6 separate regions of the Homo sapiens genome follow, and all the other regions are linked to region 2. Evidence: fine-mapped expression QTL. A gene starts in region 2. Each other region holds a variant in brackets. All regions are shown on one strand. Distances are from middle to middle.

The links.
Region 1: its variant is fine-mapped to the expression of CD177 in whole blood (INTERVAL, PIP 0.98).
Region 3: its variant is fine-mapped to the expression of CD177 in whole blood (INTERVAL, PIP above 0.99). The same link has a PIP of 0.9 or more in gastroesophageal junction and tibial nerve.
Region 4: its variant is fine-mapped to the expression of CD177 in whole blood (INTERVAL, PIP 0.97). The same link has a PIP of 0.9 or more in transverse colon.
Region 5: its variant is fine-mapped to the expression of CD177 in whole blood (TOPMed, PIP above 0.99). The same link has a PIP of 0.9 or more in lung.
Region 6: its variant is fine-mapped to the expression of CD177 in whole blood (INTERVAL, PIP 0.99).

The regions. Positions count from the first base shown.
Region 1 is chr19:43,291,856-43,297,154 of GRCh38, reverse strand. No RefSeq gene overlaps it. Among named protein-coding and RNA genes, the nearest start is that of PSG9, 25 kb to the right of the region's middle. The variant G/T (reference allele first, on the strand shown) is at 2,975.
Region 2 is chr19:43,351,261-43,356,559 of GRCh38, reverse strand. CD177 (CD177 molecule) reads right to left here and starts at 2,874. Exons shown (of 9, transcript NM_020406.4): 1 at 2,794-2,874; 2 at 2,567-2,707; 3 at 2,168-2,353; 4 at 777-899; 5 at 452-568. The coding sequence starts at 2,845.
Region 3 is chr19:43,282,732-43,288,030 of GRCh38, reverse strand. It overlaps the pseudogene CEACAMP11. Among named protein-coding and RNA genes, the nearest start is that of PSG9, 16 kb to the right of the region's middle. The variant C/A (reference allele first, on the strand shown) is at 2,178.
Region 4 is chr19:43,417,379-43,422,677 of GRCh38, reverse strand. TEX101 (testis expressed 101) reads right to left here. Exons shown (of 6, transcript NM_001130011.3): 5 at 4,672-4,800; 6 at 4,081-4,510. The coding sequence ends at 4,281. Among named protein-coding and RNA genes, the nearest start is that of TEX101, 5.1 kb to the right of the region's middle. The variant TA/A (reference allele first, on the strand shown) is at 2,466.
Region 5 is chr19:43,319,414-43,324,712 of GRCh38, reverse strand. No RefSeq gene overlaps it. Among named protein-coding and RNA genes, the nearest start is that of LINC03078, 9.4 kb to the left of the region's middle. The variant G/A (reference allele first, on the strand shown) is at 2,662.
Region 6 is chr19:43,328,717-43,334,015 of GRCh38, reverse strand. It overlaps LINC03078 (long intergenic non-protein coding RNA 3078), which reads left to right and starts at 2,508. Exons shown (of 2, transcript NR_186343.1): 1 at 2,508-2,672; 2 at 4,508-5,027. The variant C/T (reference allele first, on the strand shown) is at 3,092.

The sequences.
Region 1 (5,299 bases), 59 kb after region 2:
TTTATTTGAAAATTTGCTGATTCTTTAAATGATTTTTTCCAGATTTATGGAATTTTTCTTCTTTTAAGCTAGCTATATCTAAAGCAATTTGGTAAAGTATACTTTTGGAAACAATAATTGAAGCCCATTTATTTTTGCTCTTTACCTAACTGTCCCAGGATTGGGAAACTATTCATGAGTATTCATATGTTTATGCTAATACAGTTATTTGCACAAGTTTAGTAAGAATCTTCTCTCTTTACAAAAGGACACATTTCAAAACATTGGTTATATTACCAAGGCTTTGACTGAGATGTTATATTTGAGAATATACATAGAATGGACCCATAAGTACTGCAGGCAAAGTCTGAAGATGGCCTTCATTTGGCTTCCTCATCTCAAGAGGTTTGTAAAAGTTTAATCTGAGACTCCTTATAAAAACGTCTAGCGATGCAAACTTTAGGAAGAGTCTCTGTGGTCCAATGCTACTCTTGATGCACTTATGTAAAGAATCCCGGCAAAGTTTGATAAGACTAAACCTACTTTGGAAACAAATTTATCCTACTGGGATTATCTTTGGTAAAAATAGATATTCTTATAGAGAGAAAAATAACGTTGAAAATAAAAAGTGTAGTATACCTGCTATGAAATTGCAGCTCTGTTCATTGTTTTTGAGTTTTTATTATTCACCGGTAGACTGAACTAGACCCTGAATTCTTCTAGTTCCTCCCATCCAATTTTCTCTTATTGAATCAGTAAGAACAAAATCTGCTTTATTCCTGAAGCCCTATAAGTTGGAGGTGGAAAGCTCAATGTAAATTTCACGGGAAAACCCTCGTGTCTGAAGTATGAGTCACTCAGAGCTCACCAATATGTTTGACACCATAACTACAGACACTCAAACTTAAAACCAGGATAAGAAGTTGACAACTTCACACTGTCAAAAGCTTTTCCCAAGTTGTCAGAACAAGTCTCCACATCAAAATCAGGCTCTTACCCCTCTTAATTTGTCCATGCTTATGCCTGCCTCTTTCACTTGGCAGGATGATGGTATCATTAGAATTTCACATGAAGTAGCTTCTGAGAGTAGTGTAACAGAGTGACAGATATATCATGTCACCCTCAAATTTTTACATAAGATATCATTTAGTCCACCCAATGGCTGACATTAGCACCATCTTTAACACAATTGTTTGTTCAAATGTACAGTGGTCCCTTTTAAAGTTACATTTTCAGACTCGTTCTCATTCCCTGTTTTAATTTAATGAGCCATCGAATGCTACATAATAAAATTGTTCCCTACCAGCTGAACAGGGAGGAGCCTGTGCAGTTTCTGACACTGATTGTTGCACATAAACAAATACATCGAGTATCATAACAACTCAATCACAAAAGTTACCAAACATACTACTTGGTTAAAATTGCTAGATTCTTCTGGCTCATTCTTTGATCTATTCTATTTTACTTGGTTTGCATCTTGCCTAAAGTGCATACTCCAAACTTTTGGTATTATCCTCCCAATAGTCATACTAGTAGCCTCTCTGGTGTGATAAATTCTACAGGTTTTTAAATTCTACAATTTGGTGTGGTGAATTCTACAAAAGTTTTTAAAAAGTTTTGTGTGCAGCCATCAACAAATACCAAAGGGTCTCTCTTTGGCTGAAATGACAAAAACTCAAAGAAATGTGTGATCAGGAAGACATCATAAACCTATAAATGATGGAAGCCCAATATGATGGTTACTGAGATGAATGCCAATGCTTTAAATTTTGGTCACACTCTCACCTAAGTGAGAGCCTAGAGACTCCAAAATAGAACCACTCATGCTAAATGCTACAGTCTACAACTGAAATTTTAATGAAGCAAAGAGATACCAGAACAGACCTTTGTTTTTTGTTGAAAACAGGAGATTCCACTCTACCTGAGACAGCATAATAAAAGTTTCCTCTGCTTTAACTTTTACAGAAAAGTGACCTGAAGTACCCTAATGTTCACCAATTTATTTATTTATATGGCTTTGTTTACTGGTTCCCACTTGACAAAACCCACTGTTTTGTTATTGTATAGCCCAGGGAGGGCTGTCACTATATTTGTAGAGTGAGAGCTGCCTCAAATAATAAATGAAAAATAAAATCTATAACTACATTAGTTGTAATTTTGTCTTTTGATGCATGCTCACACCCAGCATTGGCCAGTGGAGTCTCACAGGCTCATCATTCTCACACGGATGCCCCTGCTTTTCTTTGTCACTTACAAGGACACTTCTGATTACAATGGGCCCACCCAGATAATCTAGAATAACATCTACATCTTAAGATTTTAATTTTATCACCCCTGCACTGTGTTTTTACCAAGAAAAGTAAATGCACAGGTTCCAGAGCTAGGGTGCAAACATTTTAGGAGTCCGTTATTCTGCCTAACACAGGTAACTTTCATAAATATCACCCACAACAAAAACTTGCTTTGCCTTCCTTCTGTGTCTCTTTTCTGTCTGTGCACAAACGTCAAGGTGAAAGACACAAGCTCTATGAAGTAGCTGGATGACTCTAGACCACTCATTTGAGCTGCCTCAGCCTCTTTTCTCATCTTCAGCAGAAGGGTGACCGTTCACGCATCAGAAAATGAAAGTGGAAGAGTAAATCAAAATGTGTAAGATATTAGTCACAGAGCAAGGTACCAGATGAGCCCCTGGGTAAACTTTTGTTTTTTTTTTGGGATGGAGTCTCACTCTGTCACCCAGGCTGGAGTGCAATGTCACAATCTCAGCTCACTGCAACCTCCGCATCCCAAGTTCAAGTGATTCTCCTGCCTTCAGCCTCCTGAGTAGCTGGGATTACAGGTGCGTGCCACCACGCCTGGCTAATTTTTGTATTTTTAGTAGAGATGGGGTTTCACCATGTTGGTCAGGCTGGTCTCAAACTCCTGACCTTGTGATCCGCCCACCTCGGCCTCCCAAAGTGCTGGGATTACAGGCATGAGCCACCATGCCCAGCCG[G/T]TAAACTTTTTTATCAGACCTTTCCTTTCACCATTCCATTTCTGTCACCCTCACCCATCTTCTCCTCTGACTTTTTTCTCTTCAGTGACTTACTTGGTCTAATATGCTGTTTAGCATCAAAAGCCACACTACAAATTCTTTTGTGACTCTCTTGGAATGTTCTTGTGATGTCCAGAACCTTGGAAGCCTAAGCCTTACATCAGTGTGCCCTGAATATGAGATATGGGGTCAAAGGAGATTATTTTGGAGCTTTAAGTTTTAAAGACTGTGCTGCAAGGTTTCAGACTTTCATGGGGCCTGTATCTTATTTCCTTCAGCCTATTTCTTCCCTTTGGAATGGGAGTATTTACCCAATGCCTATACTTCCATTGTGTCTTGAAAGTAACTAACTTGTGTTTGAATTTACAGGCTCATAGGTAAAAGGAACTTGCCTTGTCGCAGATGAAACTTGCTATTTTGGACTTCTGAGTTAATGCTGAGTGAGTTAAGACTCTAGAGACTGTTGGGAAGCCATTCTTATATTATTAAATGTGAGAAAGACATGAGATTTGGGAGGGAAGATGGAGAGAATAATTTTTTTTGGACCTTTACCCCCACCCAAATCTCAAGTCAAATTGTAATCTCCAAAGTTGGAGGTGGAGCCTGGTTGGATGTGATTGGATCATGGAGGTGGTTTCTCATATGTTAACACCATTCTCCTTGGTGCTGTTATAGCAACAGTGAGTTTTATCTGGTTCTTTACCAGTGTGCAACCCTTGCTCTCTTCCTCCAGCTCCCATTATATAAGATGTCTTCCTCCACCACTGGCTTTCTCCATGATTGTAAGTTTTCTGAGGCCTCCTCAAAATCTGAGCAGATGCCAGAATCATGCTTACTCTACAACCTGCTGAATCATGAGACCATTCAAACTCTTTTCTTTATAAATTATTCAGGTTCATGTATTTGTCTGTAGCAATGTAAAAACAGACTTATACAGCCTTATTTTCAGTAGAAAAAAAACTAGGGAGTAAACCATTCTAACTATGTACCAGATGCAAAGCCCAAGACAAAGAACAGAGCTATGAAGAAAATGCCTGGATAATCCCACCTCTCCCAGCATGGCCAAAAGGCACAGCTGGAGGATGGGATGGGTTTTGTCCCCAGTTCTTACTATGGTCACTCATCTAGAACTCAGAATTTAAAGCTTCAAATATAAAGACATAAGCTCACAGACAAATTAAGAAAATGTATATATACACAAGCAACTCTTTGATGACCTTAAAACATCTAGTAAAGACAATATAAACCTGCCTGCCAACAGACATAGGCAAAAGTGTATAAATTAAATTATGAAGACATTTCTACTTTATTTTACCAACAATTTTAAAGCTATCTATATTCACCAAAGGTTACTAAAATCACATATATAGAAAAGCATTTGGGCTTATTCACTTAATTTGTGAGTACTCATTTATTTTTACATTAATTTGATACTATGTGTAAACAGTATATAAACGTGTGACATATACATATATGTGATGAAACATATATATGTTCACATAAAGATAGAGAGAGACAAAAAGATTCTAGAATTTTGATTTTAGGAGTTTAGGCATGAGATCAGTAAAACCCACCATTTTAAAGGATAGTTGGATTCAAATTGCTGTCTTGTAAATGGTAAAGGTTAACATTTATCTGAGGAAGGCTTTACCTAGTTTTAGAGAAAATACATAGCACATTTACATCTCAAAGCAAAGAGAGAGAGAGAGAACTTAAGCTTTTTCAAGAGAAAATTTGGTGTGTTCAAGGAAGATTAAAAATAGATGCCAAGGTAACACAAAAAAATAGAAATTTACCATGGGGTTTTATTTTTTTATTATACTTTAAGTTTTAGGGTACATGTGCACAACGTGCAAGTTAGTTACATATGTATACATGTGCCATGTTGGTGTGCTGCAACCATTAACTCATCATTTAACATTAGGTATATCTCCTAATTTCATGGTGACCACCAGGTAGAAGCCACATTTGCATAATAAAAGAATAGGATGGGAGGGCCAGTCTTTTTTCAGGCTATGTAAATGGAACACCTGGTCAAAACAATCCCCTGGACCCTATGTAAATCAATCACTGCCTCCTTAAGTCTCTGTACAAAATCAATTGCATTCCACCCCAAATTGGAGACCCTCTCTTGGGTGACTGCTTTCTCAGTATGAGAAAGCTTTTTCTCTCTCTCTTCTTTTTTGTCTGTTAAATTTTTCAATCCTAAACACACTCCTCATGTGTTTCCATGTCCTGAATTCTTTCTCAGTGTGTGACAAAGAACCATGGATAGATTCCCAAACA
Region 2 (5,299 bases):
TTCCATGGCAGCACCTAAATGGGTAAGTGGGGACCCTCTCAGTGTCCTCCTTTAACTCTTGCTTTCTCTGTCACACCCAAAGTCCCCTTGATTTTCTCTCTGATGTTCTCTCCTGTGCAGGCAAGGCTGCTGGGGCACTCCAGCACCATGAGCGGGGCGGGGGCTGATACGGGTGGGAGAGAGGCTACGGTGGCCTAGGGAAGTGGGAGACCTAGGGTTACCCAAGGCCAGGGGTGTGGAGACACAGAAATTGAAGCAACCAGTCACTCTCAGCAGCTTGAGAGCCAGCAGGGGCCCCAGCACTCACTGTTGCCTAAAGCCACATGCCAAGCAACCCACCCTGCACCCTTGACCTTCCTCCTGCTGGCTTTGGTGTGATGGCTCTGGATGCCCCATGTGTCATCGTGCCCCGAGGCTGCAGTCCAGGGCACAGCCTAGGGGCAGGACTCACCTTTCATATCGCAGTTCTCAGTCATACCCACGGGCCCAATTTCCTGTGTCCCATTGAGCAGGTTGCAAACTGGCTGGGGCATGCATCCCTGGACTCTCAGATTGGAGAAGATGCCTCCTGCAGAAAGGGGGAGCGAGGGAGAGTCAGTGATGCTGCCTCCAGGACCACCCAACCCTCAGAGGCAGGCATAGCTCCAGGAAGCCAGGCCCACCCTCCTCTGGGTCTCATGCCGTGCCTCAGCTCACCTCACTCCCCAAAGCCTAAGATCTCAGTCCCCAGACCTTCCAGTTCAGTCCCCACAGGGACCCCGATGTCCCAGGCTTACCTCCCCTGAGCCTGAGGAGGCCATCATAACAGTGTGTGGTCCCCTTGGGGCAGATCTCTTCTGTTGTCCCCTCCAGACAGCCTTCCATAGACAAGCAGACTGGGCACCTCAAGGATCCTGGGTCTAGGAAAGTGACAGACAGAGTGAGGGGGCACTGAGAGGGCACTGGATTTGATCAGATACCTTCTCTGCACCCCACTTTTGCTGGCCTCAAGAGTCAACCTGCTCAGCCTTCCCAAAGGGGCCTTCTGCAGCTCCCATCATGGGATCTGGATGTGGGAAAATAAAGAAGTGTAATCCATAAAAGAGGAAGGGAGAATGAACAGGAGGTCTGGGTAGAGGCACCCAGGGCTGGGTACAGAAAGTGGTCTTGGCTGGGTGTGGTGACTCACACCTGTAATCCCAGCACTTTGGGAGGCTGAGGCAGGTGGATCACGAGGTCAGGAGTTCAAGACCAGCCTGGGCAACATAGTGAAACCCTGTCTCTACTAAAAATACAAAAATTAGCCGGGCGTGGTGGCAGGCTCCTCTAGTCCCTGCTACGTGGGAGGCTGACGCAGGAGAATCGCTTGAACCCGGGAGTCGGAGGTTGCAGTGAGCCGAGATTGCGCCACTGCACTCCAGCCTGGTCGACACAGCGAGACGCTTTCTCAGAAAAAAAAAAAAAAAAAAAAAAAAAGAAAAGAAAAGGGGGGGTGTCTTGGGTGGCAAGTGGGGGTGGGGGGTGGGCAGGGTGGAGGAGGGGCCTGCTGAGGCCAAATGTAGACTCAGACATGGTCAAGTCTGAACCTTTCAACAAAGTCTGGCCTTCCGAGGGGAGACACAGAAGCAGACTCATTGGTCAAGGGAATGAGGGGGTGCCCTGGAACGAGCCAGTGCCTTCACCTGCAAGCGCTACTAAACCTCCAAGAACAGGAGACTTCTGTGTTCACAAGCTGTTCCAATAAAAGAAGCGCAAAATATCTCCCTAGACTCTTTATAACACCAGACAAGGAAAGTGGAAAGTTACAGTTCAGTCTCCCTTAGGAAGAGGAAATAGCAAAAACCCTGCAGGAGAACTTCTTGAACCAAACGCAACAGAATAAAAAAAGAATGCAGGATAACCCAGTTAATGGTGATTTCATATCAGAAATCCGTCCTGTTTGCTCTTAGAAGAGGAGGGGTGCGGGGATTCCCGGGTGGCAGGTCGGTGGGAGGGATCGGGAGTGAGTGGGGAGGGATGGAAAGGGAGCGGGGCGGGGCGATGGTCAGGGAGCAGTCAGGGGAGGGATGGAGCCAGCGAGGGTCGGGATAGCGAGCGAGGGTGGGAGGGACTCCGTAACAGCCCCTCTGTGCTCAGCGGATCCCCTTCTAGCAGCCCCTCCCTCTCCTCCCGACCCTCCCGCAGGCACCTGCTGGGGGCTGTGGGGCCCAAAGCGGGAGGGAGTTAACGAGGTTGTTGCAGAAGTCCTCCTGGCGGCACACGAAGGTGTAGGAGATCAGGGAGAGGCCGGGGCCCATCCGGTGCTCAGTGACGCGGGGCTCCTGGTCCTTGGCCTCCGTGCAGCCCTTGGAGAGCACCAGGCTCACTTGGGGTCCTGGACCGAAAGAGGGAGGCAAGCGAGGATGGAGGTCAGGCCTCCAGGGTCCTGGAGGGAGACGCTGCTACACGGCGTAGGCTGAGAGGCTGGAAAGGGGATCACCGGGACCCTAGGAGTCGATCCCCCGGAGGGGTGGCTCCCGGGTCCCTGCACAGGGATCAAGGGACTGAGGGGACAGGGCGGGGTCTCTGCACGCCAGGGCCTTCTCACCGCTCTCAATGAGCATCAACGTGTCCTGGCACCCCAAGCCGCTGTCGCAGCTGGTGTTCTTAGGGGTCCATTGCCGGGGCAGGTCGGACACCTTCCACACATGCTGAACTGTCCCAAACTGGCAGAGCAGCGCCTGCACTCCTGGAGTGGCAAGAGCAAATCCATCTCAGCAGGGTTCCCTTGCCCGGCCTCCAGGGAATCTCCTCCAGGCTGGGCTCATCACTCACCTGGCAGTGGGAGGATGAACCCCAGGAGGGCCAGCAGTAATACCGCGCTCATGACCCGTCTGTGGCTGGTAATCTCTTTCTGCTTTTTCAGCAGGAAACAAGTCCTTTATACCAGCCCTTAAGCAGCCAGCCCAGAAAAGGGTGGGGAGGGGAGGGCCTTGCAAAATGGAGGCTTGGGCCCCACCCCAAGTCTCAATGGCCGCAGTGGCCTATCAGGGACCCCCTTTCTTCCTCAGACCTTCGGGTCCAGGCATCCAGCCCCTCCTCCCTCAGATGGAGGGTCCAGGACCCCCAGCCCCTCAGCCCCTCCTCCTTCAGACCCAGGAGTCCAGACCCCCAGCCCCTCCGCCCTCAGACCCAGGAGTCCAGGCCCCCAGTCCCTCCTCCCTCAGACCCAGGAGTCCAGGCCCCCAGTGCCTCCTCCCTCAGACCCAGGAGTCCAGCCCCCCAGCCCCTCCTCCCTCAGACCCAGGAGTCCAGGCCCCAGGCCTCCCTCTCTCAGACCCAGGAGTCCAGGCCCCGAGGCCCTCCTCCCTCCGACCCAGGAGTCCAGACCCCCAGGCCCTCCTCCCTCAGACCCAGGAGTCCAGGCCCCCAGGCCCTCCATAGTTAGAAACTGTGGCATCTTGACCCGAGGTTCCCCCGGTCCAGACTCCCAGCCCTCTTTCCTCCTGAGCCCAGCTATGTGGATCACCACCCCCACCCTCTTTCTCCAGTAGTTTGGGAAGGCAGTTTCCTCATTTCTCATGGGCTCCCTGGCCACCTCTGTACCCCAGATGGGGAAATGGCCCAACTACCTGTGAGGACGTTGTGCAGTGGGCATCAGCTTGTCCCCATGTCTTCCGGTCCTAGTTTCTACCCTCCACTGTCTTCCCACTTCTCTGTTCTTTCTCTTTCCTTCTTATATTGCTTTCTTTTGATTCTTCTTTTCATGCTTTTCTCTCATGCTTTCTCTTCTATTCTCTACCCTCACAGTACAACATAGGACTCAAGTCCCCAGTTTCCTACCACCAGGAAAGGCTTGGCCAGAGGTGGAGTAGAGACTGAATATCTATGAAAGAATTAGGATATATCTGAAAAATGCAACATTTATTTGCTGGAAGCCGATGGGAGAGCAGTGTTGTGCTGAAAAACCAAGTTTTCTGAAAAACAATACCCACAAATCCTGCCTCGTAGTGTTGGCCTATTTCTCTGGTGTAAATACTCATAGCATGTCTGATTTTAAGCTACCTACAGTTTGCCAACCAGGCTGATGAAATCCCTAGCTATTTAACCATGGGCTTGTCCAGGGCTGTACAAATCAGCTGTAACACACTGGGGTGGCGGGGAGGAAGACAGGAAGGAACCTGGGGTATCTGTCAGTGACTGCAGAGGGACGTTGTGGGTGTCTGTGACGGAGAGAGGAGAAGCAGAAGAGGGAAGGCGAGAGCAGGAATAGCAGAGAAAGAGAAATGAATGTGACTTGCAATTATATGTTTATTTTTGACATCTCTATAAATTTTATCTTTATTTGTCTTTGCAAGTTTATTGCAAGTTTAATATTTGCCACACAGACAGGGAAGTGTTTGTCTGATCTCCTGCTATGTCTCCACCACCTACATGGCATACAGTACATGCCCAGTAATTTTTTTTTTTTTTTAGAAACAGAGTCTTGCTCTCACCTATGCTGGAGTACAGTGGTGCAGTTGTAGCTCACTGCAGGTCACTACAGCCTCCATCTCCTGGACTCAAGCAACTCTCCCACCTCAGCCTCCCGAGTAACTGGGACTACAGGTGCACACCACCATGTCTGGTTAATTTTTGTATTTTCAATAGAGACAGGGTTTCACTATGTTGTTCAGGCTGGTCTCAAACTCCTGACCTGCGGTGTTTTCATTTTGAAAAATTTCAGGCTGGGAGCGGTGACTCATACCAGTCATCCTAGCACTTTGGGAAGCCAAGGCGGGTGGATCTATTGAAGTCAGGAGATTGAAACCAACCTGGACAACACGGTGAAACCCCATCTCTACTTAAAAAAAAAATACAAAAATTAGCCCGGTGTAGTGGCAGCCACCTGTAGTCCCAGCTACTCCGGAGACTGAGACAGGAGAATCGCTTGAACCCAAGAGGCAGAGGTTGCAGTGAGCCGAGATCGCACCACTGCACTCCAGCCTGGGCAACAGAGTAAGACTCCATCTCAAAAAAAAAGACGGAAAAATTTCAAACCGGCAGAAAAGTTGCAAGGATAGTACAGTGAACACAAGTATCCCCTTCACTGGATTCACCCACTCTTCACATTTTATTGTATCTGTTTATACACACACAACATATGCTTTTAAAATATTCTTAAATTTTAAAAACAAGGAGTAGACATTGTAACTCTCACCACTAAGTGCTTCAGCAAGAACCTTCTTAAGATTATTCTTAAGGGGGCTGGGCACAGTGACTCACACCTGTAATCCCAGCACTTTGGAAGGATCACTTTAAGTCAGGAGTTCAAGACCAGCCTGGCCAACATGGTGAAACC
Region 3 (5,299 bases), 69 kb after region 2:
ACACACCCACCCTAATCACATAGCCCTCATACACTTCCATGCAGACCTCTCATGACATTATCTGCAGACAGGTTCAAGAAGTACCGTCCAGCAAACAGCACATGCACAACATAAATGTATTTGCAGAGACTCAGAGCTAACCTGGAGGCACGAACCTCGGCACTGCCAGGACACATACCCTTCCCCATGGATTCTGACTTTATCTGACCCAGCCCACTATCCAGATCTTGTTGTGGGGCTGGGGTAGAGAAAGTCACAAAGCCTGTTCCCTGGACACTCTGTGTGACACTCAAGACCACCCCCACCCCATCATTAGGTCTCCCCACACAGGTCTGACCATCATGCATCGTGAGGAGGACTCTAGCATAGGCTCAGAAACCATACAAAAGAATTAGCCACAGAGAGAAACACTGAGCTAGAGGAGCTGGTTGCTGACATGGAACAGGTTCCCTGTAGTTCAGGAGTCCAACTCGGTCTGAATTTCCCTCACTTCATAAGCCAGGCACCCCTGAGAAACAGCTTTTTCCCATGGTCTCCTCTGTGGTAACACATTAGGGTCCCTCGCTGTCAAGATTCTAGAGATGGAAGAAACCTGGACAGCACACATCCCAGCTTCACCCTTCCTCTCTTTCTCCCTCCCTGCCAGGAATCAGGGCTCAGGGCTCAGGAGGAAAGGCACAGCCCAGTGAGGCCAGAGTTGGTGAGATGTCTGAAAGGTGTTCAGTGAAAAAAGTGCATCCCTCTTTCATTCTACCTGATGAGCCCTGTCCTGCACAGCTTCCTCCACCCTGAGGACTTCCCCAGACACCCTCTCTAACAAAGCTGACTGCCCCGTTTCCTTTCTGCTCACACTTAGGCCTGTCCTGCCTTCTGGGAAATGTAAAATGCACCAAAATCAGCCAAAGCAGCCACCCCTGCCAGGATCCATAATAAGGCAATGTCCCTGGGTCACCAAGAGAATGAGCTTCCACTGTGTCGCAGTCCAGGGCTCTTTCCCTCTGAGAGGCTGACTCATGAAACAGGCCACCAGAAAGAGATCAGTGACTCCTCCATCCATTCTTATAATCACCTGACAGGTTCTTGCCCTCTGCGCAGGCAAAGCCAATTTATTGTGAAGGTGATGTGTAGTAAAAAATGGTTTTGCTTAGCCCAAGGCTGCCAAACAGGAGGATAGAAGTTTATTATGACTCAAATCAGCTTCCCCAGTGGCTCAGAGGTTAGAGTTTTTCAAAAACTTTGAGGGGCAAAGTTCTAAGGAATAAGTACTGTTGACTGGCTAAAGATGAAATGATGCCGGTAGGGGAAATGGTCTGTATTTGTTGAATCTGCCTCTGAGTGGGGGGCCACATGACTGGTTGAGCCATTGGTCATGAGTCTAGATGAGGTCAGCTGGTTGCCGGAATGCAAAAATCTGAGAAACATCTCCAAAGACAAATCTCAGATTCTACAATAGTGTTGCTATCTATAGGAGCAACTAGGAAAGTCACAAATCTTGTGACCTCTGGACACATGACTCCTGAGCAGTAAGGGATTATAGAAACTATGCCTGCATTTTAGCAGAATTTGGGCTCCTGCATAATTCATGGTCTTTTCTTAGATTTACCACGGTAGTCCCCGACAAGGAGGGAGCTAATTTTAGGGAGGGACTATTATCATCCTTGCGTCAAAGTTAAACTATAAATTCCTTCCATGCTTACCCTGGCCTATGCCCAAGAATCAGAGAGGACACCCAGCCTGAGGCTAGAGGTGAGATGGGGTCAGCCAAGCTAGCTTCCTCTCACCATCATATGCTTTGCAAAGGTGGTTTCACTTTCTACATAGACTCACCAGGTGGTCAGACGCTGAAGGACAGACCTGCAGTTTCCAAAGCCCATGGGCTCATTTCACCCATTTCACTCATGACTCCATCCTCAACCTGCTGTGGGGCTCATATCCTCCAGTCATGCCCTAGAGACTTCGAATTTCCGCCAGGCATGTAAGTAGCTTAAAAATTTTCACTCAGTTCTAACAACAAGTAAAAAGCTGAACAAACTGAAAAAACAACAACTCATTTAGATTTGTCAGAGAAGCAAGGTCTCAGTGCTAACTGGCCCACATATTGAAGAGACCCACAGGCAAATACAGAGCAGCGCACCGTACCTGAGCAGAAACACAGGCACAGAAACCTCAGCGGGAAC[C/A]AGTGCTGGGGTCAGAAAACCTCAACTCTAATTGAGGAAATTCTGGAGGCTCAGTGTGGACACAGCGCAGAGATAAACACACCAGTGGATGAATTAGCCTTGGGAGTAGGGGGACAGTTTTATGACTCTTAGCTCCTGGAGCTCTACCAGGTTCTCACAGTCAATATCCAAAAAGAATCCCTGCATCCTTCTTGTAGGAGAGAAGGGAAAAAAACACTTGGAAAGTTGTCAGTGAATTATATTCTTCTTGGTAAGACCTACATTTAAGAGGAACTATTTTACTGCAGCCTAATTAGCTGGGGTTTGATGGGAGCTTAACTGGCCAGGGGGAGGGGAAATATCCAACTCCAGCCTCCTCAAGTCATCATATCCCACCTAATGGAAAGAAAAACCTGAGAGGCACTTGTGACATTCACAGCCCAGGACACAGATCTCATCCAGAACCACAGAACCCTTCCCTCCCCTCACTCACCACCATGTCACTGAATGCCTGCTCACTCAAGTCCCTTTTACCCAGTACATCATGTGTGGTTTTCAAAAAAATACAAGACAGACTATGGCAAAAAAAAAAAAAAAAATAATGCAGTTTGAAAAACAGAGCAAGGATCAGAACCAGACACAGATGTGGTAGGGATGTTGAAATTATCAGACTGAAAATTTAAAACAACTCTGGTTAAGGATTATGATGGAAAAAGGAGACACCTTTCAGGAATAGATGGGTGATTTAAACAGAGAGATGGCTATTCTAAGAAAGAAGCAAAAGAAATGCTAGAGATTAAAAACACTTTAAGCGAAATAAAGAATGCCCTGCATGGGCTTACTGGTAGGCTGCCCACAGCTGAGGAAAGAATCTCTAGCTTAAGTGTGTGTCAATAGGAACTTCCAAAACTGAAACAGCAAAGTTTAACAAGAGTGAGAAAAAGTGGAACAACATATTCAGCTTCATATTCAATATTTGGTATTGACAATAGCATATTTTATATTCTGAAGTTGTATTTTATATTTTGTAGCCTACAAAGGCTGTAACATACACATAATGGGAATACTGGTGGTTCCTAGGACCAGGTGGAGCTGGCCAGGTGGGTGCTGTTTGATTTACTGCCTGTTTCATGCACACCTGTGTACTCATAATAACAACAGTGTCATAAGGTGGGGTCCTTCGGGTGGGGAGATGCATGAGCCACTGCTGCCTCACTTAGACTCTGCCCAATTTAAACAAAGTTAATCAAACTCTAATTATATGACCCTGCTCAATTCACAGTTCACCAGTATTGCTGCTTGATTCACAGTTCAGAAGTCTGTGCATCTCCCACACAGAGCAGGTGGCCCCATGGTCTCTGAGCCCTCAGATCATCATGCATCCATCTGTCTTTTGACACACAGAACTGCTGTGGGCTTTTAAGGACTTGGATTGGCTGAGAGGTGGGAGATGTCAACTCTGATTGGAAAATGCTCGTGGAGAAATCAATGGTGCCACACAGGGGAATCTTCTCTGTTATCTGCACAGTGAATCTGCCCAAGCCCTATGTCACCAGCAACCCCGCGGAGGATGAGGAGGCTGTGGTCTTAACCTGTGAACCTGAGACTCATGGCACAATCTACATGTGGTGGGTAAATAGTCATAGACTCACACTCAGTCCCAGGCTAAAGATGTCCAATGATAACAGGGTCCTTGCTCTACTCAGTGTCACAAGGAGTGACACAGGACTCTATGAATGTCAAAGGAAGAATGTAGTGAGTACCAGCCACAGTGACCCAGTCACCTGGATGTTCTCTGTGAGTATCCTCTTTTCCTTCATGGACAAGGCTGCCAGCCCAAATCCACATAACACGAGGCCAGGCCTCTCAGTCCCTCTCAGGTCCAAGTATGAAGACACTTACCCCTGGACCCCCAAGCTGGCCATGACTTTCTGTCCCAGGCAAACCTGGGTAGGCCCAGGAAGGGAGGGGCTTCTCCGGTCTTAGGGGACTCTGGTTCCATAGCTTGCGATGGGAGAACACGTGAATGTCTTAGACTCCTCCAGTTCAGTGAACACAGAAGAAATTTGGCTGGGACTTCAGGGTTGTGACTTGGCAAAAAGGAACATTGTGTCCCTTTCACAGACCAGGAGCTTCCCATTCCCTCTGATAACATTACCTGTGGCTTTATTCTCTTTGCTCCAGATGGCCCAGATGAACCCACAACTTATTCTTCAGACACCTATTACTATGCAGGGTCAAACCTCAACCTCTCCTGCCTCATGGGCTCTAACCCATCAGCAGAGTATTCTTGGCTGCTGAATGGGAATAACCAGCAAACAGGACAAGAGCTCTTTATCCCCCAAGTCACTACAGAGAATAGTGGGGACTATCTGTGTTATGTCCATAACCCAGTCACTAATGGCAAAAACTTCGCAACCAAGAAAATCACAGTCCCTGGTAAGTGGATCGCTGGAGCATTGGCAATATGCTTTCAGGTGAAGCCTATCTGGCTTTCCAAGAAAGAGCCAGGAAAACATTTTTATTCTCAGCCTGTGTCCCATGCACAAAAGTAAATCCCAAATTTTTCTCCTGAACACTCCCAATTCATATCTACAGATTCTCTTCCCTTTGTTTTCCAGATTTCTGGTGGATGACCTTGGGTCCAGCCTGAGAAATGTAGGGAAATGGCTTTATCAGCCCCAAGCACTATGCAGTATAAGGGCCTTCACAGACGGAGAAAGAGGAGGGTCCTCATGGTCAAGCTGTTTCTGTCACCAAAACATCCCTTCTGTCTCCTTTGTGTGTGTGTCTGTGTGTGTGTACTCCATGAGCTGCGATGAACATCAGAGGCTTCAAAACAAGCCCACACTTTTCCCCAAATGACAGGAGGAAGCCCCTTGGGTGAAGCAGAAGCAGCTCAGACTCTGCTCCCTGCATTGCTGTGGGCTCGCTCAGTGACCGACCCTGCCCTGACTCCAGCCGGGGGGTGGGGCAGGCATGTGGATAAGGTGCCTGGGTGGCCGGTTCTGAATCTGGCTAAATCGAGCTGCCAGTAGAAGCTAAGCCTCCCATGGGTAAGGCTTTAAAAAATGGGAATAGGACTGTGTCCTGGCTCTGAAGTCACTGCCTGTGTGAGTTTGTGGACACAGCTCCTGGAACAC
Region 4 (5,299 bases), 66 kb before region 2:
ATAGTACATATATGACCTTTGAGATGGACTTTTTTCCACTCAGCATAATGCCATTGAGATCCAGCCAAGTTTCTGTGTGTATAAATAGTTTGTTTCTTTCTATTGTGGAGTTTAACATTCACCTACTGTAAGACATTTTGGTTGTTTTCATTTTGGGCTATTACAAATAAAGCTGCTAAGAACAAGCACATACATGATTTTGTGTTGACTTAAGTTTCCATTTCTTGTGGATGAACGCTCAGCAGTATGACTGCTGGGTAGATGGTAAGTGTGTGTTTAGTTTTTAAATAAATGGCCAAACTATTTTCCAGAGTGGGTGCACCATTTCACATTCTTACAGCAATATATGAGAGATCTAGTTTCTCAATTCCTCTCCAGAATTTGGCATTGTCACTCCTTCCTTTTCTTTCTCTTTCTTTCCTCTCTTTTCTTTTCTTTCTTTCTTTCTCTTTCTTTCTTTCCTTCCTTCCTTCCTTCCTTCCTTTCTTTCTCTCTTTCTTTTTCTTCCTTTCTTCCTTTTTCTTTCTCTCTGTCTCTGAGACAGGGTCATGCTCTATCATCTAGGGAGGAGGAGTGCAGTGGCGTGACCTCAGCAAACTGTCCACCTCCCTGGGTCAAGCCATCCTCTTGTCTCAGCCTCCCAAATAGCTGTGACTATGTACAGGCACACACTACCATGCCCAGTTAATTTTTGTATTTTTTGTAGAGACGGGGTTTCACTATGTTGCCCAGGCTGGTCTCAAACTCCTGAGCTCAAGTAATCCACTCGCCTTGGCCTCCCAAAGTGCTGGCACTATAGGTGTGGGCCACTGCACCTGGCCCTCAGTTAAAATTTGATTTTCGTGTGCTTCTTCTTCCTCTTTAGGGAGATTTAGCAAACTGACACAATGGGGACTGGCTACCTAAGGACAAAGATAAGGAATTAGCTAGAGTAGCGCTTAAACTGCAGGAGAGTGGTATAAATAAAAAAAAAATGATTGAGGTGAGTCTTAATTATTTTAGTTTCTTTTGCTAAGGTTTAGGACATGCCCAGGAAAAAGAAACACAAAACCACAGGAACATCTGTGATCTGTGCTTTTTCCAAAGAGGATTTGGGAACTTCAATTTTTTTTTTTTTTTTTTTTTTTTGAGAGAAAGTTTCACTTTTGTTGCCAGGCTGGAGTGCAGTGGCATGATCTCGGCTCACTGCAACCTCTGCCTCCCAGGTTCAAGCAGTTCTCCTGCCTCAGCCTCCCGAGTAGCTGGGATTACAGGCATCCGCCACCATGCCTAGCTAATTTTTTATATTTTTAGTAGAGACGGGGTTTCACCATGTTGGCCAGGCTGGTCTTGAACTCCGACCTCAGGTGATCCACCTGCCTCGACCTCCCAAAGTGCTGGGATTACAAGCATGAGCCACCACACCCGGCCTGGGGACTTCAATATTTAAAGTGGGGAAAGGAGTGGGCAATAGGAGAAAGAGGAAAGAAAAAAAGGAGGAGAGTAAATAAAAAGGGAAAGTGGTTGCATTCTTTTGAGGCTTTGATCAGCTTTCAGTGAATCTACATTTTACATGTGAAAGGAGAGGGTAGAGGAATAGTCAACTATGCAATCATCTTGCCCTCAGTGAATTTGCATTTTTTTTTTTGAGACGGAGTTTTGCTCTTGTCACCCAGGCTGGAGTGCGATGGCCGGATCTCAGCTCACTGCAATCTCTGCCTTCTGGGTTCAAGTGATTCTCCACCTCAGCCTCCTGAATAGCTGGGATTACAGGCATCTGCCACCACACCTGGTAAATTTTTGTATTTTTAGTAGAGATGGGGTTTTACCATGTTGGCCAGGCTGGTCTCAAACTCCTGAGCTCGTGATCTGCCCGCCTTGGCCTCCCAAAGTGTTGGGATTACAGGGGTGAGCCACCGTGTCTGGCCAGATTTGCATTTTTACATAAAATAAACTAAACATCTAGTAGAGGAAAGAGTGAAATAGGCATTTGTCTCAGGTGAGCAGAGGGATGACTTCTGGTCCTGTCTTGTCCAGTACCTGTGAAGATAAACTGTTAATTACATTGCCAGGGTGAAACTCAAGCAGAACTGTTTTAGGGTAAAGATCTTGGGGCCCACAAGGAATTTCCTTGTGGCCAAATTGTGAGCAAGGCCTGCTGGGGAGGTGTGTAGACTTCTAAATCTTTGCAGCTACATATTTAGGAACAAAATAAGGGGCAGTTTGGTGTGACTCCATTCCCAAGCCTGACTTTTCCCTTTAGCATAGTGAGTTTGGTATCCCAAGATTTTTTTTTTCCCTTTCTCAGTGGGTAGAACCAGAGAACTTTCTAGAAAGAACTTGGTTGGAATATATATACTATGGCCAAACTCCCCAGTCTTTTGAGAGGGGAACAAGTGTTTGTAATAAAAGTCTCTCCTTCCACCTCTGGTGCCGTTTACTGTGTGTCAGATAAGTCTTAGTAAAGCTGTTTTTTTTTTTTTTTT[TA/A]GAAGAAAATATCTGTCTCCCTTTTACCCTCCCCACCTTTTACTTTGCTCTATACACCTCTGATATCATTTGAGTCTTTTACAATAAGATAGAGCTTATGTATTTTTGAGTAATAATAAGCATGAGAATTTTCCAAAAATCTTTGCCGCCCAAGTAGTCACAGGTCCCCATTCACCATACTGTAATGAATCCTTCCTCCCTCCCTCCCAAGTCCACTGAAGAGTCATTAAGTCAGCCCCAGGGAAGGGAAGGAATGATGTAGAGCAGGCAAGGGATAGACAGGACACAGAGAAATGGGGCCCACTGTAATGAGAGAATTTGCCTTTTGTTTTGATAGAGGATCTCACTCTGTCATCCAGTCTGAAGTACAGAGGCATGATCATGGCTCACTGCAGCCTCAACCTCCTGAGCTCAAGTGCAGACAAAAAATAAAATTATAAGCCACTCCCCGCCCCCAACCATCTGAAGGGTCCCCTCCTCTCAGCCAGGGCTTTCCAAAGTTAACCTGAAAAACTGGTTCAGGCCATGCTGTGGGAAGGGAGAGTCGGCCATGCCTCAATATACCCGCCTCCCTTTTGGATTTTGGGAAAAGCTGACCAGCATGAACATCAACACAGACCTTAAGTCTGATAAACATTTACAATGTATTCTCTCTGAAGCCTGCGACATGGTGGCTTCATTTGTGTAATAAAACTTTGGTTTCCACAATCCCTTATCATCGTAACCCAGACATTCCTTTCTACTGATTCCAGGTCTTTAGATAATAACTCTTTTAACCAATGGCCAATCAGAAAATTTTTGAATCTACCTATAACCTGGAAGTTTCCTCCACTTGGAGTTGTCCTGCCTTTCTGGACTGAAACAATGTACATCTTACATGTATTTGATTGCCTCATGTCTTCCTAAACGGTATAAAACTAGGCTGTGCCCCGACCACCTTAGGCACGTTTTCAGGGTCTCCTGAGGGCTGTGTCACACACCACGGTCACTCACATTTGGTTCAGAATAAATCTTTTCAAATATTTTACAGAGTTTGACTCTTTTTGTGGACATAAGTGATCATCCCACTTCAGCCTCCCAAGTAGCTGGGACTACAGGCGAGCGCCACCATGCCAGGCTAATTTTTGGATTATTTTTTTTTGTAGAGATGTAGTCTCATTAGGTTGCCCAGGCTGGTCTCAAACTCCTTGGCTCATGCAATCCTCCCACCTCTGCCTCTCAAAGTGCTGGGATTACAGGTATAAGCCACTACAGCAGGCCCATAACTGGAGAATTTGGAGTCTGATTTTTCTCATTTGGCCATACTTCCTAGGGAAATTTTAGAACCCCAAAACAGCAGCCTTAAGATTGGGCTGGGAGTGTTCTGGAGGAGGCTAATGCTAGTTACTTCTGCTAGCAAGGAGAGCTAGCATATTAGAGTGAAAGGAAAATCAGACTTTACGTCAAAATATGTAAGTTCTTGCCTTGGCTCTGGCCATAGCTAAATGTAAGAAACTCACTGAAATTTTCCAGATCTCAGATTCTCTTTCTGGAGAATGTGTGGTTTGGAGAAGATGAATTTTAAAGGCTCTTTCAGCACTAAAATTCCACTTCTAGTGTTGAAACATACACAAATCACAGCAGAAATGTTTATTAGTAACGCCTACTGCATACAAAAATTATAGCAGAAATTGTATTAAAAATGTCAAATACGTTCATAGTATCTCTGTATTCTCCCTCAAATTCCCATCTACTCCTCAGCTTGTTGAACCTCAACAGTAAGAAGGCTCCCAGTCAAAAAAGATGTCCTCAGACCCAGGCCCAGAAGTGCCTTCTTAGGAAAAGTGAATAAATGATGGCAGCAGCAATGGCAGCAGTAGCTGTAACCCCCAAACAGGAATGGGAAGACAGGTGGCCCCATTTTCAGTCTTTCGAGGTTGAGTGAGCAGCTGATGTGGGCACGCTTCCCTCACAAACATGGGTCCTACTGCTAAGATTCCAGACATCAGCCTGCAGCCAATCATGGCTGTACAGCCTTTGACCTCCACAGACGACTCAATGCCACCTATAGAACAAGGAAGGATCGGGAGAGACAGAGATGTTTTAGGACATCAGAGGAGAATCCAGTCCCCCCTCATCCCTGGAGAGCTCAGTGTCAGAATCTCTGGGGAGCCACTCAAATGGTTTTCCAGCCTCTGAAACTATCAGATGTTCATTTCAGTTTACCTCCAGTGATCTCAAGTTTTCCTTGATAGCATCGAGTTGTACCATTGGGACAGGGAAGAGAAGGAGCACTGAAACAGGTCCCCAAAGCCACACAGGTTGGACAATGGAGGGTTGTTGACACAGTGGAAGCTGGAGGGAAATGAGAGAGACAGTTAAGGGCAGGTCCTGCCTCCAGAGATGTTGCTCCTTGCTGCCTTCTCTTCCCCAAGATTTTCCTGCAGATGCCACTCTAATCAAGGCCCATTACTTCAGCCTCCCCATCCTTCCCCAGCTGGTGTTCTCTGCTGTGAAATCTCCATCGATCTGACTTCCAAACTCTGCTGAGGTGTGAAGATACAGAGATGAAAAGGACATAGTTCCTGTCACCTGGCATCTCTGCCTAGGAGAAAGACATGTAAGTAATCAATTCAGTAGCTGCTGTGTTCAAGGTATAATGACAAAGGAATGGAGGAATACCCAACTACCTAAAAGAATTTGGCAAATATTTTCAAAGAGCTGATACCTGAATTGACATGGAGGATGAACAGGGGTTAGCTATGTGAAAATGGGGTGGGGAGGGTAGTAAAGGAAACAGCAAGGACAAAGGTCAGGTGGTGTGAGCCAGCTTGGTGGATTCAGGGAATTGTGA
Region 5 (5,299 bases), 32 kb after region 2:
AACACACCTCACCAAGCTCAGCCACCAACTTAAAAAGGACTGGACAATACTTTTACCACTTTCACTTCTCAGAATTCAGGCCTGTCCTCAGAATGCTACAAGGTACAGCCCATTTAAGCTCCTGTATAGATGCTCCTTTTTATTAGGCCCCAGTCTCATTCCAGACACTGGACCAACTTAGACTGTGCCCCCAAGAAAACTTGTCATCCCTACTATTTTCTGTCTAGTCATATTCCTATTCTCCATTCTCAACTACTCACACATGCCCTGCTCTTGTTCACACTGCCAGTTTACACTGTTTCTCCAAGCCATCACAGCTGATATCTCCTCGTGCTATCCCCAAACTGCCACTCTTAACTCTTGAAGTAAATAAATAATCTTTGCTGGCAGGACTATGCTGAATCTCCTTAGGCACTCTCTAATCAGATGTCCTAGGTCCTCCCAATTCTTAGACCTTTTATACCTGTTTTTCTCCTTCTTATTCCATTTAGTTTTTCAATTCACACAAAACTGTATCCAGGCCATCACCAATCATACTATATGACAAATGTTTCTTCTAACAACCCCACAATATCACCCCTTACCACAAGATCTCCTTTCAGCTTAATCTCTCCCACTCTAGGTTCCCACCCGCCCCTAATCCCGCTTGAAGCAGCCCTGAGAAACATCGCCCATTCTCTCTCCATACCACCCCCCAAAAATTTTCGCCACCCCAACACTTCAACACTATTTTGTTTTATTTTTCTTATTAATATAAGAAGGCAGGAATGTCAGTCCTCTGAGCCCAAGCCAAGCCATCGCATCCCCTGTGACTTGCACGTATACGCCCAGATGGCCTGAAGTTACTGAAGAATCACAAAAGAAGTGAAAAGGCCCTGCCCCGCCTTAACTGATGACATTCCACCATTGTGATTTGTTCCTGCCCCACCTTAACTGAGTGATTAACCCTGTGAATTTCCTTCTCCTGGCTCAGAAGCTCCCCCACTGAGCACCTTGTGACCCCCGCCCCTGCCCACCAGAGAACAACCCCCTTTGACTGTAATTTTCCATTACCTTCCCAAATCCTATAAAATGGCCCCATCCCTATCTCCCTTTGCTGACTCTCTTTTCGGACTCAGCCCACCTGCACCCAGGTGAAATAAACAACCATGTTGCTCACACAAAGCCTGTTTGGTGGTCTCTTCACACGGACACGTATGAAAAGAAAGACATGAGATTTGAGAGAAACCAGGGAAAGAATGATATGTTTTGGATTTATATTCCCACTCAAATCTCATGTCAAGTTGTAATCTCCAAAGTTGTAGGTGGAGCCTGGTTGAAGGTGATTGGATTATGGGGATGGTTTCTCATGGTTTAACACCATTCCTCTTGGTGCTTTCCTAGTGACAGTGAGTTCTCAGGTGATCTGGTTAAGAGTGTGTAACCCTTGCTGTCTTCCTCCTGCTCTCACCTGTGAGATGCCTTGTTCTGCCTTGGCCTTCCACAATGATTGTAAGTTTCCCGAGGCCTCCTCAAAAGCTGAGCAAATGTGAGAGTCATGCCAAACCATGAGCCAATTCAACCTCTTTTCTTTATAAATTACCCAGTCTCAGGTATTTCTCAGTAGCAATGTGAGAACAAACAAATACAGCATTATTTTCAGGAGAGAAAAAACAGGAAGTAAGCAATTCTAACTAGTTACCAGGTGTAAAGCCCAAGATAAACAGCAAAGCTATGAAGATTATACCTGGAGAATCTAATCTCTTCCAGCATGGCCAAAAGGCACAGCTGTGGGATGGGATGAGTTTTGTCCCCAGTTCTTGCTATGGTCGCTCATCTAGAACTCAGAATCTAAAGGCTCAAATCTAAAGATATAAGGTCACAGAAAAATTAAGAAAATGTATATATACAGAAGCAACCATATGATGACCCTAAAACATCTAGTAAATACAATATAAAAATGTCTGCCAACAGACCCAGGCACAAATGTCTAAATTAAATCTGAAGACATTTCTACTTCATTTTACCAATAATTTTTAAACTATCTTTATTTACCAAAGATTACTAAAATCACATGTATTGAAAAGCATTTGGGATTATTTACTTAATTTATGAGTACTTATTTTTACATTAATTTGATACCATGTATGTAAACAACATATAATCATATGTATGGACATAGACATATATGTGATACAGCATATAACATACACATGTGCACATAAAGATAGAGGGAGGCAGAAAGAGTTTAGAGTTTTGATTTCAGCATAGGACCGATCAAATTCAGTATTTAAAAAAGACAGTTGGATTAAATTTGTGCCTTTGTAAATGGAAGAGGTTAACATTTAATTAAGCCAGACTTTATTGAGTTTTAGAGAAAATTGGTAGCAAATTTACATCTCAAAGCACAGAGAGAAAGAGAACTAAAGCTTTTACAAGAAGGAATTTGTGTGTGTTCAAGGAAGATTAAAAATAGATGCCAAGGTAACACAAAAATGACAGAAATTTACCATAGGATTTTATAAGGAGACCAATTTTATTTAGATAGGCAGCTTTTAATTTGGTCTCTGTTTTCCAACTGGACCACTGAGCTCAGGACAGAGCCCATTAAGGAAGAGGACCAACGAAGTCTTGCAACTTTTAGATCCTAATAATTTAAATACATAAAAAGAAGACCCAGTT[G/A]CAAGGGACAGCATCCAGACCTTTATAAATCAAGGATTTCACTGAATCCCAGGTCCCTGAGAAGAGGAAAATGCCAATGGAACCATACTATGCAACACTTCCACAGTGTACTTTGCTATAAGGGCATTTTTCTAATTATTTAAACTGTGTATTTCTTATCTAAACTTGCAAAGAAATGAGTAGCATTCTGAAGTAATAATCATTTATTGCGAGCGCTGTTAGTCACCTCCAAAACCAAAGCTCTTACCAGTGACCCAGCAGCCATCACACATATAAGGTCAAGCATTTTTACAGTGCAAAGTAATCTCTGATGCCCCCAAAAGCCAAAGAGGTCAGGGAAAATGGAAAAGAGAGCAGAGTTTTAGACCTGAGAGGAATCCATTTACTTACAACTCTTGGGGTTCCATGAGGAAAAACAGTGGTTTCTCCTAAATAGGGAAGTCTGTGGCATCTTTTCTGTTTTCCTTAAGGGGTTCCAGGCTGTCAGAAATTCTTTAGGTTCCCTCATGTGGCATCAAGAATAGCAAGAGGAAGGATGGAAAGAGAAATAAGCAGAAAAAGAATTTTTAAGAAAAAAACCAGACAGACTAAGCACATGATTTAAAAAGATTTCAGTCAACTGAAAAAAAATCTTTCAAAGATACAAAAGAGATGGCCAGAGGCAGTGGCTCACATCTGTAATGGCAGCACTTTGGGAGACTGAGGCGGGCAGATTACTCAAGGCCAGGAGTTCAAGACCAGCAACATGGCGAAACCCAGTCTCTAGTAAAAATACAAAAATCAGTCAGGTGTGGTGGCACGTGCCTGTAATCTCAGCTGCTCAAGAGGCTGAGGCCCAAGAATCCCTTGAACCCAGGAGGTGGAGGTTGCAGCGAGCTGAGATTGTGCCACTGCACTTAAGCCTGGGTGACAGAGTGACAGCCTGTCTCAAAAAAAAAAAAAGATACAAAAGAGAAAAGCAGAAAAGCCTTCAATATACATTCAAGTCCTTTCTCAATATATATCCAATATGAATTTATATATTCTGTGTATATACATATTCTATATATATATAATATTTTATATATATATTATTTTAATATATACATGGCTTAATATTATAAATATTAATAATTATATGGCTTAAATACCATTAATAAATATATGGCTTAAATACCAGTTTTTAATTAAGCTGACTCTTAATCACAGAGCTGTTTTGGGAAATCCTTCTCTTAGCTGCCAAACATAGCTGAGAAATGACACCAAAGCATGTTAGCAGCAGTGAATCTGTAGACGTCTTCAGCAACCTCAATTCTTGCCTCTTTAGAAGAAGTAATTTGACTAAGAGGCATAAGGCAGAAGAAGGGACTGAGGTAAGTGTTAGAGCAGGAGTAAAAGTTTATTTAAAAGCTTTAAGGCAGGAATTAAAGGAAGTAAAGTACAATTAAAAGAGAGTCAAGCAGGCTGGATACAGTGACTCACACTTGTAATCCTAGCACTTTGGGAGGCCGAGATGGGTAGATCACCTGAGGTCAGGAGTTTGAGACCAACCTGGCCAACATGGTGAAATTTCGTCTCTACCAAAAATACAAAAATTAGCTGGGTGTGGTAGCATGTGCCTGTAGTCCCAGCTACTAGGGAGGCTGAGGCGGGAGGATCATTTGAACCTGGGAGGCGAAGGTTGCAGTGATCTGAGATCATGCCACTGCACTCTAGCCTGGGTGACAGAGCAAGACTCTGTTGCAAAAAAATAAATAAATAAAAATAAAAAAATAAAAAAGCCAAGCAGGCAACAAGAGATCAAGTGCATTGCTTGACCTCTGACTTAGGCTTTTGTATGTTGGCATAATTCTGGGGTCTGCATCTCCTCTCCCCTTATTTTCCCTTTGGAGTGGGCTGTCTGCATGTGCAGTGGCCTGCTAGCACTTGGGGTGGGGTGAACATGCGCAGTGTATTTACTGGAGTTGTATGCATGCTCACTTGAGGTGTTCTTCTCTTTCCAGTCAAATGTCCCTGGGAGGTCACAAACCAGTTAAACTCCACCATTTTGCCTCTTAATGCACATGTTTTAGCCCACTCACCCAACTTCTGAGAACTTATCAGGAAGGAGCTGATCAACTGTTTCAGGTGTTTCCTGTCTATTGGGAGACTGCCTTTCCCTGGTGCTAGCTACAACCCATTATTATTTTAGAGAGACAGTTAACGACCACCTGACAATCACCTGATGGTCATGACATTCCTGGTGTGTGGGGGAAGGAGGCTCCCTCCTGTCCTGCTGATGTCTGACTAGCTACCCACTGTAATACTTTCAGATTTTTTATTATCAGATTTTAGCTAGGACAAACAGCTGATATTTCTGGCTTTTGAATTTTTTTTTAACCAAAAGTATCCTCCCAGCTGAAACTGATAAGCACTAACCATAATTGTGACTTAGCCAAGGATGCATGAGACATCTCCAAAGATGTAAATGAGTACCACAAAAACTCAAAAATCACACAAATATCAAAACAAAAGTGGCAGAGGCATTTGAAGTAGAGTGACTCCATCTTGAGTGAGGGCTGGGAAAATGAGGCTGGGACTTGTTGGGCTGCATTTCCAGAAAGTGAGGCATTCCTAGCCTCTAGATGTTTATGGTTAAGGGAACAAATCAATAATATTT
Region 6 (5,299 bases), 23 kb after region 2:
AGGTCTTATATTACACCTTCTATCTGAGTATTGTTTCTGTGTATAAAAGTTATTAACCTCCTTATGTTAACTTTACATCTTTCTATTAAATTCTTGCATTGATTAGTTTTTCACTATGTCTGGAATTTCCTAGATATATAATCACATATTGGTTGTGAATTGGTATAGCTTATTCTCCCTCTTTCTAAGTCTTATATCTCTATTCGTATCTGTACCCCAATTTCATTGGCCAATGCCTCCAGTACAATATTGAGTAACAGCAGTGACAGTGGGCATCAGACAGGGACACAGTTGACCTGGAGGCAGCACCCCCAGTGCTGTGATGGAGGAACACAGGGCATTCTGGGGACCACCTACCTCCCAGGCTGGCATCCTCTCTCTAAAGCCCCCAGAGATACCTCCCTGAGCCCTTCCTTTGAAACCTTGGGGACAGGTGGCTCCTTCTAAGGCAGCCCATCCTCCTGGTGGACAGTTCTCTTGAATCTCGACCTGCTGTTCTCTGGATAACTCCTGTCCTCTCCCTGGGCTCATCTTGCACTGCATGGAGTTGGGCAGCCTGGGGACCTGCAGTGAACAGGACCTGGGGTGACCTGACCCTGCAGTCTGGAGGTCAGATCCCACTTCTGCCCAGGGGTCAGGGCCAGCTCATACCATGCAGACCCTGGTCAGTGTCCCTGGGGCAGCCCCTGACAAGGCCACAAGTCTCCTCTTGCCCTCCAGGGGGCGACATCACACACAGATAACACTCAGGAAATGGATTCCCCTGGACAGGAACCTGGCTTTGCTAAGGAGGTAGAGGTGGAGCCTGGTTTCCAGCCCTTGCCCCAAATGACCCTTCTGGTCCCTGCCATGTGCCTGCTCCTTCATGGTGCCTGCTCTGCCAAGGGTTTTTGTGCAGCTCCCCACTTCCTCCTGGCATCACCCATGGGGAAGGTGTGGTAGCCACAGGACACACACACACACACACACACACACACACACACACACAGACAGACACAGTCTTTCTATCTCTCTCGCCCCCCCAACCACCTGCAAGGTTAAGGGGTGAACATAGGGAGAACATGGACAGGCCCTGAGCCACAGCTCAGCCAACAGACACAGAAAGGGAGGGTCTCCATGAAGCCTTCCCCAAGGACAGCAGGGCTCAGAGCCACCCACCTCCCTCCACCACAGTCCTCTCTACCCAGGACACACAGGACAACTTCCTCCACACCCTGGAGCTGGAGCTCCACCTGAGTCCAGCCTGGGTCTCTTTGGGTCAGAGGCCAGGCTGGTGACACTGGAGACAGAGGGCTGGTCCCTCCCCAGTCATCCCCCAGTGAGCTCCTTTCTATCCCCCAGAGCCACCTCTGTCACCTTCCTGCTGGGCATCATCCCACCTTCCCAAGCACTAAAGAGCATGGGGAGACCTGGCCAGCTGGGTTTCTGCATCACAAAGAAAGAATTCCCCAGGTTTGGATCCCCAGGGTTCTGTGTGTGGAGCTGACAGACCTGAGGCCAGGAGATAGCAGAGGTCAGCCCTGGGGAGGGCGGGTCATCCTCCCAGGGGACAGGGTTGCACCAGCCTTGCTACTGAAAGGGCCTCCCCAGGACAGCGCCATCAGCCCCACCTGAGAGCTTTGCTAAACAGCAGTCAGAGGAGGCCATGGCAGTGGCTGAGCTCCTGCTCCAGGCCCCAACAGACCAGACCAACAGCACAATGCAGTCCTTCCCCAATGTCACAGGTCACCAAAGGAAAACTGAGCTGCTACCTGACCTTCGAAAGATAATAGCCGATTTCCCAAACAGGCCAGTTTCAATCGCATGACAATGACCTCCCCTCTGCTCTCACCGTTTCTAAAACAGGAACCTGATTCTCCCCCATCAGAGATTTCTCCCTTGTTCCATGAGCCTTTCCCGAGTGGCCCTGTTTTTTGTGTTTGCTTTCCGCAGCCCTCCCCTCTCTATTAAACCCGCGCTTCTGCTCAGCTCCTTGACCCACGTATTGTCTCATGGGATGAAGTCTCGCCCGATTTTAGGACGGCAAATAAAGCCACTTGAAGTCTTTATCTGTGCTAGTTTGTCCTGTGACAGCTCTGTGTATCTGTATGTGTACATGTGTCTCAGTTTCAATGAATCTGAGTATATATGTGTGTGTGTCTGTATATGTGAGTGTTTGCCTCTATGTCTGTATATATGTGTATATGTGTTTGCCTGTATGTCTGTATATATGTGTGTCTGTGTTTGTGTCATGTCTGTGTGTATGTGTGTGTGCATCTCTGTGTGTGTCTCTGTGTGTGTCTCTGTGTGTGTATATGTGTGTGTGTGTGGACAAGTGTGGAAGGAGAGCCATATCTGAAGAAGGCAAATGGCCTCAGCAGGTCCTAAGGACCAAACACACACAGAAGGGAAGGGGAAGCAGGAACCAGAAGGCAGGACTGAGAGGGGAGGGGACAGAGAAGCATCCTGGGCAGAGTCCCGCCCCTGCCCCTGGCCCTAGGAAGTGCTCCTGCCCTGAGAGAAGGCTCAGCACAGAGGGAGGAAAGACAGCAGAACTGGCAGTCACAGTAGCTCTGATCATCCTGGAGCTAAGCTCCTCTCCACAGAAGAGAAGCAGGCAGCAGAGACCATGAGGCCCCCCTCAGCCCCTCCCCGCAGAGGATGCATCCCCTGGCAGGGGCTCCTGCTCACAGGTGAGGGAGGACTCCCTGGGAGAGGGTGGGAGGAGGAAGCACAGAGACTGGCTGGTGTCTCCTGGGGAGGACGGAGCTTTGAGAGGGGATAGAAGGCTTCTGTTGAAGCCTGAATAGGGGAGAGGACATCAGAGAGGGACAGGAGTCACAGCAGGAAAATTACATTGAACTGGAATTGGAAAGGGGCAGGAAAACCTCAATTGCTCCGTGTTTCTAAGGCAGTAATCAGTGGCCACTAAATATTGAAAAATGATAAGGAAAGCAACCATTTATGTCACCATGGCACTGCAGAAAACAAACCTTCCCAGGGACTCCTGGGAAACCCCCTGCCTGGTCTGAGACCCGCTCTGAGGAAGCAGAGGGTAGGCTTGGGCCCAAGAGAGGCCGACCATGCCACAGGTGGGGGCAAAGGGGTGCTC[C/T]GGGGGAACTTACAGCCCAGGCAGGCTTGGGTAGCAGCAACGCAAGGAAGGCCCCCTACGTGCTCTGCACGCCTCTCTGGCATTTGATATCATGAAAAGAAAAGGAGAGGGAGAAAAGGGAGAGAAAAGGAAAAGAACATTCTTGGCATGTGGAGCCATCTATCGCTTTCTTAGTCCGTTTACTCTCTACTTAAAGGAAGCCTCTCCCTGCTACAATCTGGGTAACATCCATAAGAGGCGGGGATGTCCTGGGCAGCAGCAGCCATCTGGGGTCCTGAGTGTTCTCTCCCTTGGCCACCTCCTCCACCTCACTTCAAGGTCCCTGTTCAGAACACATTTCCACAACAGCACAAACGCTGTCCTCACCTGCCTACCTCAGACATTGGCAAATAAACTAATGTTTCTCATGGTTTAACACCATCTTCCTTGGTGCTGTCATTATGATAGTGAGTTCTCATGAGATCCAGTTTTCTGAAAGTGTGTAGGAAAGCATGTGGTAGAAAAGAAAAGCCCATGTTCAGGGGAGGAATTCAAGCAGGCTGCAGAAATTTGCATAAGTAAAGGGAGCGAAGTGCTAATAGCCAAAACAATAAGGAGAAGGCCTTAAAGGCATTTCAGAGACCTTTGCAGCAGCCCTTCCCATCACAGGACCAGAGGCCTAGGAGGACAGAATAAATTTTGGGCCAGGCCCAGGGCTCTGCTGCCCTGTGCAGCCTCAGGACACTGCTCACTGCATCCCAGCTGCTCTAGTCATGGCTCAAAAGGGTCAAGGTACAGCTCGGCCTGTTGCTTCAGAAGGTACATGTCATAAAGCTTGGCAGCTTCCATGTGGTGGTAACCCTGCAGGTGCACAAAGTGCAACAGTTTAGGCTTGGGAGCCTACATTTCAGAGGATATATAGAAAAGCCTGAATGTCCAGGCAGAAGCCTGCTACAAGGGCAGTGCCCTCATGAAGAACCTCTACTAGGGCAGTATAGAAGCAAAATGTGGGGTAAGTGTCTCCACACAGTTTTCACTGGGCCAGGAGCTGGGAGAAGATACCCACCATCCTCAAGACCCTGGAATGGAAGAGCCACTGGCAGCTTGCACACTGCACCTGGAAAAGCCATAGGCACGCAATGCCGGCCCATGAGAGTAGCCATGAGGGTTGAGCCCTGCAAAGCCACAGGAGTAGAGCTTCTCAGGGCCTTGGGAGTCTAACCCTTGCATCAGTGTGCCCTAAATGTGAGATATGGGGTCAAAGGAGATTATTTTGGAGCTTTAGTTTTAAAGACTGTGCTGCTGGGTGTCAGACTTGCATGGGGCCTGTATCTTATTTCTTTTGGCTTATTTCTACCTTTTGGAATTGGAGTATTTACCCAATGCCTAAATCCCCATTGTATCTTGGAAGTAAATAACTTGTTTCTGATTTCACAGGCTCATGGGCAAAAGGGACTTGCCTTGTCTCAGAAGAGACTTGGGACTTTGGACTTTACTGGTAATGCTGGAAAGAGGTAATGGACTGTTGGAAAACCATTGTTACATTTTGAAATGTGAGAAATGTCAGGCCTCTGAGCCCAAGCCAAGCCATCGCATCCCCTGTGACTTGCATGTATATGCCCAGATGGCCTGAAGTAACTGAAGAATCACAAAAGAAGTGAAAAGGCCCTGCCCCGCCTTATCTGATGACATTCCACCATTGTGATTTGTTCTTGCCCCACCTTAACTGAGTGATTAACCCTGTGAATTTCCTTTTCCTGGCTCAGAAGCTCCCCCACTGAGCACCTTGTGACCCCCGCCCCTGCCCACCAGAGAACAACCCCCTTTGACTGTAATTTTCCATTACCTTCCCAAATCCTACAAAACGGCCCCACCCCTATCTCCCTTTGCTGACTCTCTTTTCGGACTCAGCCCACCTGCACCCAGGTGAAATAAACAACCATGTTGCTCACACAAAGCCTGTTTGGTGGTCTCTTCACATGGACGCGCATGAAATTTGGTGCCATGACTCGGATCGGGGGACCTCCCTTGGGAGATCAATCCCCTGTCCTCCTGTTCTTTGCTCCGTGAGAAAGATCCACCTACAACCTCAGGTCCTCAGACCGACCAGCCCAAGGAACATCTCACCAATTTTAAATCAGGTAAGCGGTCTCTTCTTACTCTCTTCTCCAACCTCTCTCACTGTCCCTCAACCACTTTCTCCTTTCCACTCTTCAATCTCTCCCTTCT